2 linked regions of the Homo sapiens genome follow. The protein of the gene in region 1 interacts with the protein of each later gene in a pairwise test. Each region holds a gene or a part of one and is shown in the gene's direction. Other genes may lie near its edges.

Region 1 (4,472 bases):
ATCAGTGGTGGATTGGATAAAGAAAATGTGGTAGGCATTCACCACAGAATGCTATGCAGCCATAAAAAAAGAATGAAATCATGTCCTTTGCAGCAACATGGATGCAGCTAGAGGCTGTTATCCTAAGTGAATTAATGCAGGAACATAAAACCAAATGCCACACATTCTCATTTATAAGTGGGAGCTAAACATCGGGTACTCGTGCGCATAAAGATGGGAACAACAAACAATGGGAACTACAAGAGGGGTCAGGGAAGGAGGGGTCAAGGGTTTAAAAACTAACTATTGTGTACTATGTTCAGTACTTGGATGACAGGGTCATTCGTACCCCAAACCTCAACATCACACACTATACCCAGGCAACAAACCTGCACATGTACCCCCTAAATCTAAAATGAAAGTTGAAAACATAAAATTTCTCAGGAACTACATGTGTGTGTATATATATATACATACATACACACACACATATATACACACACATTGCACATAATGGGCTAGCTTTCTCTTTTGTCTCTCTCTCTATATATACACACACACATATATATACATATATATATACTGCACATAACATTGGGCAAACTACTTGAACAGACACTTTACAAAGAAAGATATAGAAATGGCCAGTGAGCACATAAAAGCATACTCAACATAATTAGTCATCAGGGAGATGATAATTGAAATAACAATGAGATGCCACTTCCCACCCTTTCAAATGGCTAAAAATAAAGGCTGACAACCTCAAATGTTGATGAGGATGGGAAAGAAAAGGAGCTCGCATACATTTCTGGTGGGAATGTAAATTGCACAACCACTTTGGAATACATTCTGGCAGTTTCTTATAAAACATAAAACTATCCTGTGATGTGGCAATTCATCTCTTAGGTATTTGCCCAAGAAAAATGAAAGCATATGTCCACACAAAGATGTGTACATGAATATTCATAGTAGCTTTATTTATAATCGCCCAAACTGGAAACAGCCCAGATCATAACCTGGTGAATGAACAAACCAACTCTGATATATCCAAACAATAGCATACTACTCAGCGATAGCACATTCAACAACATAGATAAATCTTGAAAACATCACGTTGAATGAAAGAATCCAGACACACAATAGTACATACGATCTGATTCCATTCATACAGAATACTGGCTTTCCAGTCTTCGCCCTCAGTTCCCGACCCTTCACTCCCCCCACCACCATCTTGAAGATGCCCAAGGGGGAGAGGTCCCTTCCATTCCTTCGTTCCTTCCTTCGTCTGCTGGTCGATTTGTTCGCTCGTTCATTCATTCATTCGCACGCTCATTCCACTCCTCCCCACCTCCACCCAAGCGTCCAGCCCGCGCGCGCCGCTCCCCCGCAGGCTGATCAGACTTGCCTGCCCAGTCCGCCCCCGCCCAAACCCCGCCCCCTTCCCGCCACGCCCCCTTCCCGGGCCAATCGGGGACGAGACTGGGGCCGGGGCGGGGCCTCGCTCCCTCAGAACCCCCGGCGGCGCTCACGGCTCCGGAAACGCGCCGCGGGGCTGTTAGCTCGGCTGGGCACGGGCGGCTCCGTGGCGCTTCCTGCCACGCCAGGCCTGCCTGGGCCGCGCCAGCGCCGCTCCACCGAGGGCCGCGCGTCGGCCGCCGCCGGGCCTGGGTGAGTGTGCGGGCCGCGGGAGGATGTGCGGGGGGCGCTGGAGGGGCCGCAGGGCGGAGGTGATCGTGGGGGCGGCAGGAGGACGTGTGGACCTGAGTGAGCGTGCAGGGCCGCGAGAGGATGTGCAGGGGGTGCAGGACTGTGTGCGGGGCTGGAGCGAGTGTGCGGGCCGCAGAAGAGTGCACGGTGGAGGGAGGGGGCGTCTCTGGGCAGTTGGAGAGCTGCTCGGCCTTGGGCGGGCCAGAGCAGGGAACGGGTCCCGGATGACGAGTACGAAGAGGCCCGAAGGCCTTCCCGAGGCGGGCGGGGGGCGGCGATCCCGGGTGGGAATCGCTAAAGTGTAGAGGCCTGCTCTGCTCTTTGGGGGACGCTAGGAGATGGGAACCGCTCAGGGGCGGAGAGAAAGGACCCCTGCCCCTAGCTCCTAGGAGCCCGATCTGGAGGGGGCATTGTAGGGGTGGGGGTTAAAGGACTTTTCCCTGGTCTAGGGGAGGGACTGAGCCGCAGTCTGGGAGCTGGGAGGGTGGGCCAGGTGGGAACAGTTCCCGCTGGGGAGTCCCTCCTTTCCTTTTGAGTGGGTGGGAGTGGGGGGGGGCGGTTAAGCCTCAGCTTGGTGGGGAGAATGGGGGCCGGTAGGTAGCCTAGAGAGAGAGCTGTGGAGAGGCAGGGGAAAGGGGGCGGTGAGCCGAGCTCAAGGCCCTCTGTCTGAACCAGTCTTTTTCTGTCGCCCTACTGGGGGCCGCCATCTCCCACTTCAGTGCCCCCGCCCCCTTAAACTCCTTTGCTGGCTCCTCCAGTCTATATTTGGGTGATTAATTATATATCTTTTCCACACACACCCCCCACTCGCCTGCCGCCCAAAGTCCATGGTCCCTTTCAAACAACCCCCTGCCCCCATTCCTGGCCCACTTCCCAGAGGTCCCACCCTGCCACCTTGTTCCAACTGAAGCCCTCCAGCCAGCCTTGACCTAGCTGGGCATGCGGCCCCCTCCAGTCTCCTTAGTCAATGAAACATTTCCTCTTCAACCTCAGCCCGACATTTTTCCTTTACAAGAGAATTTCAGATGGGATTGCTGGAACAGCACCTCCCCTAGGTACTAATGCTGCCTCAGCCCCTCCCCACCCTCACCTTCCCCCAACCCTGCAACATTGGACCTTCAAGTAGAAGCCACTTGCACAGTATCTGGCCCAGTTCAGTACATCCCCACAAAATGTTACTAGGGGGATGTACTGAACTGGGTCAGACACTGAGTTTTATATATAGAACCCTATTGAGCAGTAATTTGCAGCCTTCTGTCTGTGAGGGACCCCTTGGAAATCTACCAGAACTTGTGAATTCTCTTCTAACCATCAGCACAGACTCAGAGATAGTGGGCTCCCATTTCAGCAGGTTCCTGGGCAGGAATCCTGTCAGTAACAGAGATTCTGAGAGTTGGAGAATCTGGGAACCTCCAGATTCTAGACAGGCCCAGTGTTAAGGAGGTGCAGCTCTGCATCATAATCTCCTGGGGTGCTTGTTGAAAAATGCAGACTCCTTGGTCTCTCCCAAACCTGCGAAACTCCCACATGAGTTCTTAGTGAACTCCACACCAACTTTCTCACCCAGTGATCCAGCCCTTACCCAAACCTGCCTGGGCTCCTTGGATGGCCCTGGGCTCTTTGCAATTTGCATAGCATCCCACCCCACCCCCAATTTCGACCTTTGTATCCAGGCGATGTTACCTAAAGGAAGCTATACTTAAAATTTATTTCGATTTTTAGTAAGATGCCATGAATCTTCTTGGAGAAATGGGAACACAAAGCTTTCCTCAATTAAGTACAACAAACACTACAAAATCCCCTTCTGGTCTACCTTCTGGCTTTTTATAGAAAGGAAATAAGATAGAAACCCAAACAGAAAGAGACAGGTGCCCAGGCAAAGTGAGAGGAAACAGATGCCTTCCCACCCACACATACAGAAAAAGGCACACACAGACACAAATACCCCAAGAGAGACAGACTTTCCTGGTGAGACACCCTCTCTTTAGGCCCTTCAGGATTCTGCTACTTCGAGTAGCAGCCTGTTTGCTGCTTTGGGACGGGACGGGATGGGCCCACGTGGGGCCTTCACTTCCGCCTCCTGGCCTGTCAGGTGGAAAGAACATGAAGGCCAGGCTCAGCGTGGCCCAGGGCTTGGCTCAAGGGTTGCATCCTGGCCTGGCTAGGGTGGATCCAGATCGTGGCAGTATATATTCAGTTGAACCCTGTATCTGGCCCAGTTCAGTACATCCCCCAAAATGTGGGGGACATGTTCCTGGGAGGTGCACACAGGTCTGCTTCTGTTCACCTGAATTATTGCAATCCAACAGATGGGGCCTTACCTGCCAGGCTGATCCCTTGGAGTAGTTCTGAGGCATGATGAGTCATCCGTGTGTGTCTCTTTTGGGTAAGTCTGGGTGTTTATGCATGGTGTCTGCTGGCTTTGACGCTGGGCATGCTATCAGAAGACCCTATAGGTGGGGTTACAACATGGTGAGGAGTATCGTTTTGGTTCCGGAAGCACTTATATTTTCATCTGTGCCACTGTTGCTGAACTGTCTTTGCCCAGAGACAGTTCTCTCAATCCAAGCAATACAACTCACAGGAGAAAAGATATTCAGGAAAGAGAATCTGGAGTCTAATCTCCCTTTTGGATGGGAGAGGGAGCTGAAGGCATCCATCTGAATTGGATCTTTTGTGAGTGGAAACCTTTGAAGACACCCGTTGCTCTGGCCTAGAACTGAGCAGAACACAAGCCACCTGTTGTCTTCTGGGTAAACTCAAGCTTTAGGGCCTGAGGACATTCT
Region 2 (3,818 bases), about 110 Mb from region 1:
CCATATTAAATAGTATAAGTGATACTGGGTACACAAATTAAGATTTACTTTGGCTGGTTGTGGCAGAAAGTCCAAAGGATAATGGCTTAGACAAGATAGTTTACTTTTCTTTCCCATAAAGGCAGTCTGCAGAAGAGCAATTAATCTAGGGCTGACAGGCAGCCCCTTCTGTGTAGCCATCCTCAGCACATGGCAGTTGAGACAGTAGGAAGAAGGGAGAGGAATAAAAGGGAATGTGTCTAAAGTTTCTCCATTAAGTATGGTGCATGCAGTAAGTTTTTAGAATGTATCCTTTAATAAATCAAGAAAATTATCTAATCTTCGTTTGCTAAGATTGACCATAAATAAGTATTGAACTTCAAAATCCTGTGCTTTTTTTCTCCCTTTGTCCATTAATTTCATAAATTGTGGCCTGGCATGGTGGATCACAGCACCTTGGGAGGCCAAGGTGGTTGGATCGCTTGAGGCCAGGAGTTCAAGACCAGCCTGGCCAACATGGTGAAACCTCATTTCTACTAAAAATAAAAAAATCAGCCAGGCGTGGTGAAGCATGTCTGTAATCCCAGCTACTGGGGAGACTGAGACATGAGAATCGCTTGAACCTGGGAGGTGGAGGTTGCAATAAGCTGAGATCGTGCCACTGCACTCCATCCTGGGCAACAGAGTGAGACTCCATATCAAAAAAATAAATAAAAATTTTGTAAATTGCATTAAATGATATCCTTGGCATTCTTGAGCTATACCCCACTTGATCATGGTATGTATGTATATGTTTATGACTTCTTACTTTGAAAATATCTCAAATTTACAGAAAGGTTGCAAGAAAAAGTATAATGAATTCCCATATATCCTCTACTCAGAATTACTTGTTTTAAGTATTTTGCCACATTTGCTCTATCACTCTATATCTTTTTTTTTTTTTTTTTTTTTTTTTGAGACGGAATCACTCTGTCACCCAGGCTGGAGTGCAATGGCGTGATCTTGGCTCACTGCAACCTCCGCCTCCTGTGTTCAAGCAATTCTCCTGCCTCAGCCTTCCAAGTAGCTGGGATTACACGCGCCTGCCAGTACGCCTGGCTAATTTTTGTATTTTTATTAGAAACGAGGTTTCACCATGTTGGTCAGGTTGGTCTCAAACTCCTGACCTCAGGTGATCCACCTGCCTCAGCTTCCCAAAGTGCTGGAATTACAGGCGTGAGCTACCGCGCCTGGCCCACCCTATAGCTCTATATCTTTACATAGACACACACACACACACACACACACACACACACACACACACACGTTTTTTTTAATCGTTTGAGTTGGTGGCAGCCATGACTTTTCTTTTTGAGTCAGAGTTTCACTCTTGTTGCCCAGGCTGGAGTGCAATGGTGCAATCTCGGCCCACTGCAACCTCTTCCTCCTGCATTCAAGCGATTCTCCTGCCTCAGTCTCCCAAGTAGCTGGGATTACAGGCATGCGTCACCACACCCAGCTAATTTTGTATTTTTAGTAGAGACAGGATTTTTCCATGTTGATCAGGCTGGTTTCAAACTCCCGACCTCAGGTGATCCGCCCATCTCGGCCTCCCAAAGTGCTGGGATTACAGGCATGAGCCACCACATCCAGCCTGACATGACCTTTTAAGTCTGGCAGCATGTACGTCTTAAGAACAAAGGTGTTCTCTTCCATAACCACAATATACTTATCAATATCAGGAAATTAAACAATTATATAGTACTTTTATTCTATATAAAGCCCATATTCAGATGTTATCACTCTTCTCAATAATGTCCTTTATAATGGTTTTCCCCAATCCAGGATCCAGTCCAAGATCATGTATTGCATTGAGCTCCTTGTCTCCTTTAATCTGAAACAGTTATTCTATCTTTGTCTTTTATGACCTTGTCATTTTTTTTTTTCCTGAACCTATGGATTATATTGAAAGCATGTTTTAAAGTTAGTTGTTTTATAGAATGTTTCTCAGTTTGGATTTTTCTGATGCTTACTCATGAGTTTTTGGCAGAAATGTTATTTAAGTGATTTATGTATATTTTTAAAACCTTGTTAGATTTTATTAGCCATTGTATCATCTAGGATATCTACACCTGTATTTATCAGTGAGGTAGTCCAATATTTTTATTTTCAGTATTTATCTGGCATTGGAATCAAGGTAGCCTCATTACATGAATTGGGCAGCCTTTGTTATTCTCTCTTTATTGGAGAAACTTGTATAAGAATTATCTGTACCTCGAAAAACTTGGTAGGACTCACCTTTAAAAGCATCTGGAGGCTGGGCGCAGTGGGCTGAGGCAGTTGGATCACTTGAACCCAGGAATTCGAGACGATCCTGGGCAACATGGCGAAACTCTGTCTCTACAAAAAATACAAAAATTAGCTGGGCGTGGTGGCAGGTGCCTATAGTTCTAACTACTCAGGAGGCTGAGGCAGGAGGATTACCTGAGTCTGGGAGGTTGAGACTGTGGTAAGCCATGATCATGCCACTGCACTCCAGCCTCAGTGACAGAGTGACACCCTGTCTCAAAAAATAATAAAATAAAAGCATCTGGAGCTGGTTTTTGATTACCATTTCATCTCTTCTGCCAATTTTAGCATTTTATATTTTCTAGAAATATACTCATTTTGTGAAGATCCTCATATATGATGATTCAGTCCAGCATCCTAGAAATGCTTTATAAAAGGGATATGCCTTTGGAAGGTGTTTGTTCAGAGTGCTTTGGTGGCCAATTAAAAATATTCCTTTCTATCCAAATATGTTCCCTTCCTGAGTTTAGATAGCAAGAGTTCAATACCTGAATTTATTTGGTTTGGATATTGGATGTCAAGAGAGTTCAGGATAATTTCATCTGAAAATTTATAAATTTATTCATATCTGTTCAGTTCTTGATTTTTTTTCCTTTTTTTTTTGTTTGTTTGTTTGTTTGTTTTTGTTTGTGGAGATAGTCTCACTCTGTCTTCCAGGCTGGAGTTCAGTGGTGCGATCTTGGCTCACCGCAACCTCTGCTTTCCAGGCTCAGGGGATTCTTGTGCCTCAGCTTCCTGAGTAGCAAGGATTACAGGCCCGTGCCACCACACCCGGCTAATTTTTGTATTTTAGTAGAGACGGGGTTTCACCATGTTTGCCAGACTGGTCTCGAACTCCGTACCTCAGGTGATCCACTCGCTTCAGCCTCCGAAAGTGCTGGGATTACAGGTGTGAGCCACCATGATGGCCCAGTTCTTGAATTTTGATGACTACAGTTCAAATTGATTGTATCAAGAACCTTATAACTACTCATACCACTGACAGTGATTTCTTCTCTAGGCATTTACGGTAGGGAAACAATTTGGGGCCAGGTGTGGTGGCTCACGCCTGTAATCCCAGCACTTTGGGAGGCCGAGGCGGGTGAATCACGAGGTCAGGAGTTTGGGACCAGCCTGGCCAACATGATGAAACCCCATCTCTACTAAAAATACAAAAAATTAGCTGGGTGTGGTGGCAGGCACCTGTAATCCCAGCTACTCGGGAGGCTGAGGAAGGACAATCGCTTGAACCCAGGAGGTGGAAGTTGCAGTGAGCCAAGATCACGCCACTGCACTCCAGCCCGGAGGACAGTGCGAGACTCCCTCTCAAAAAAAAAAAAAAAAAAAAAAGAGTTTGGGTTCCAAGCTGAGTTCGTGGGGACAGGGACTTTATTTTGTTCACAGCAGTATCCCCATTACCTAGAACAGTACTTATCGTATAGCCAATGTTAGGTTAATATTTGTTGAATGAATGCATGAACAAATAATTGTTTAAAAAAATGGAAGTCAACCAAAATGTTTGAAAACATGTT

What was found.
Region 2: the proteins of ZNF275 (region 1) and RBM10 interact in binary tests that used the Homo sapiens proteins (3 or more experiments, as listed by UniProt).

What each region holds. Positions count from the first base shown.
Region 1 is NC_000023.11:153,332,639-153,337,110, forward strand, and holds the start of ZNF275 (zinc finger protein 275), read left to right. Parts: upstream 1-1,514; 5' UTR 1,515-1,647; intron 1,648-2,823; exon of another isoform or gene 2,824-2,899; intron 2,900-3,995; 5' UTR 3,996-4,041; coding exon 4,042-4,072; intron 4,073-4,472. UniProt on the Homo sapiens protein: May be involved in transcriptional regulation.
Region 2 is NC_000023.11:47,151,533-47,155,350, forward strand, and holds part of RBM10 (RNA-binding protein 10), read left to right. Parts: intron 1-3,818. UniProt on the Homo sapiens protein: Binds to ssRNA containing the consensus sequence 5'-AGGUAA-3'. May be involved in post-transcriptional processing, most probably in mRNA splicing. Binds to RNA homopolymers, with a preference for poly(G) and poly(U) and little for poly(A).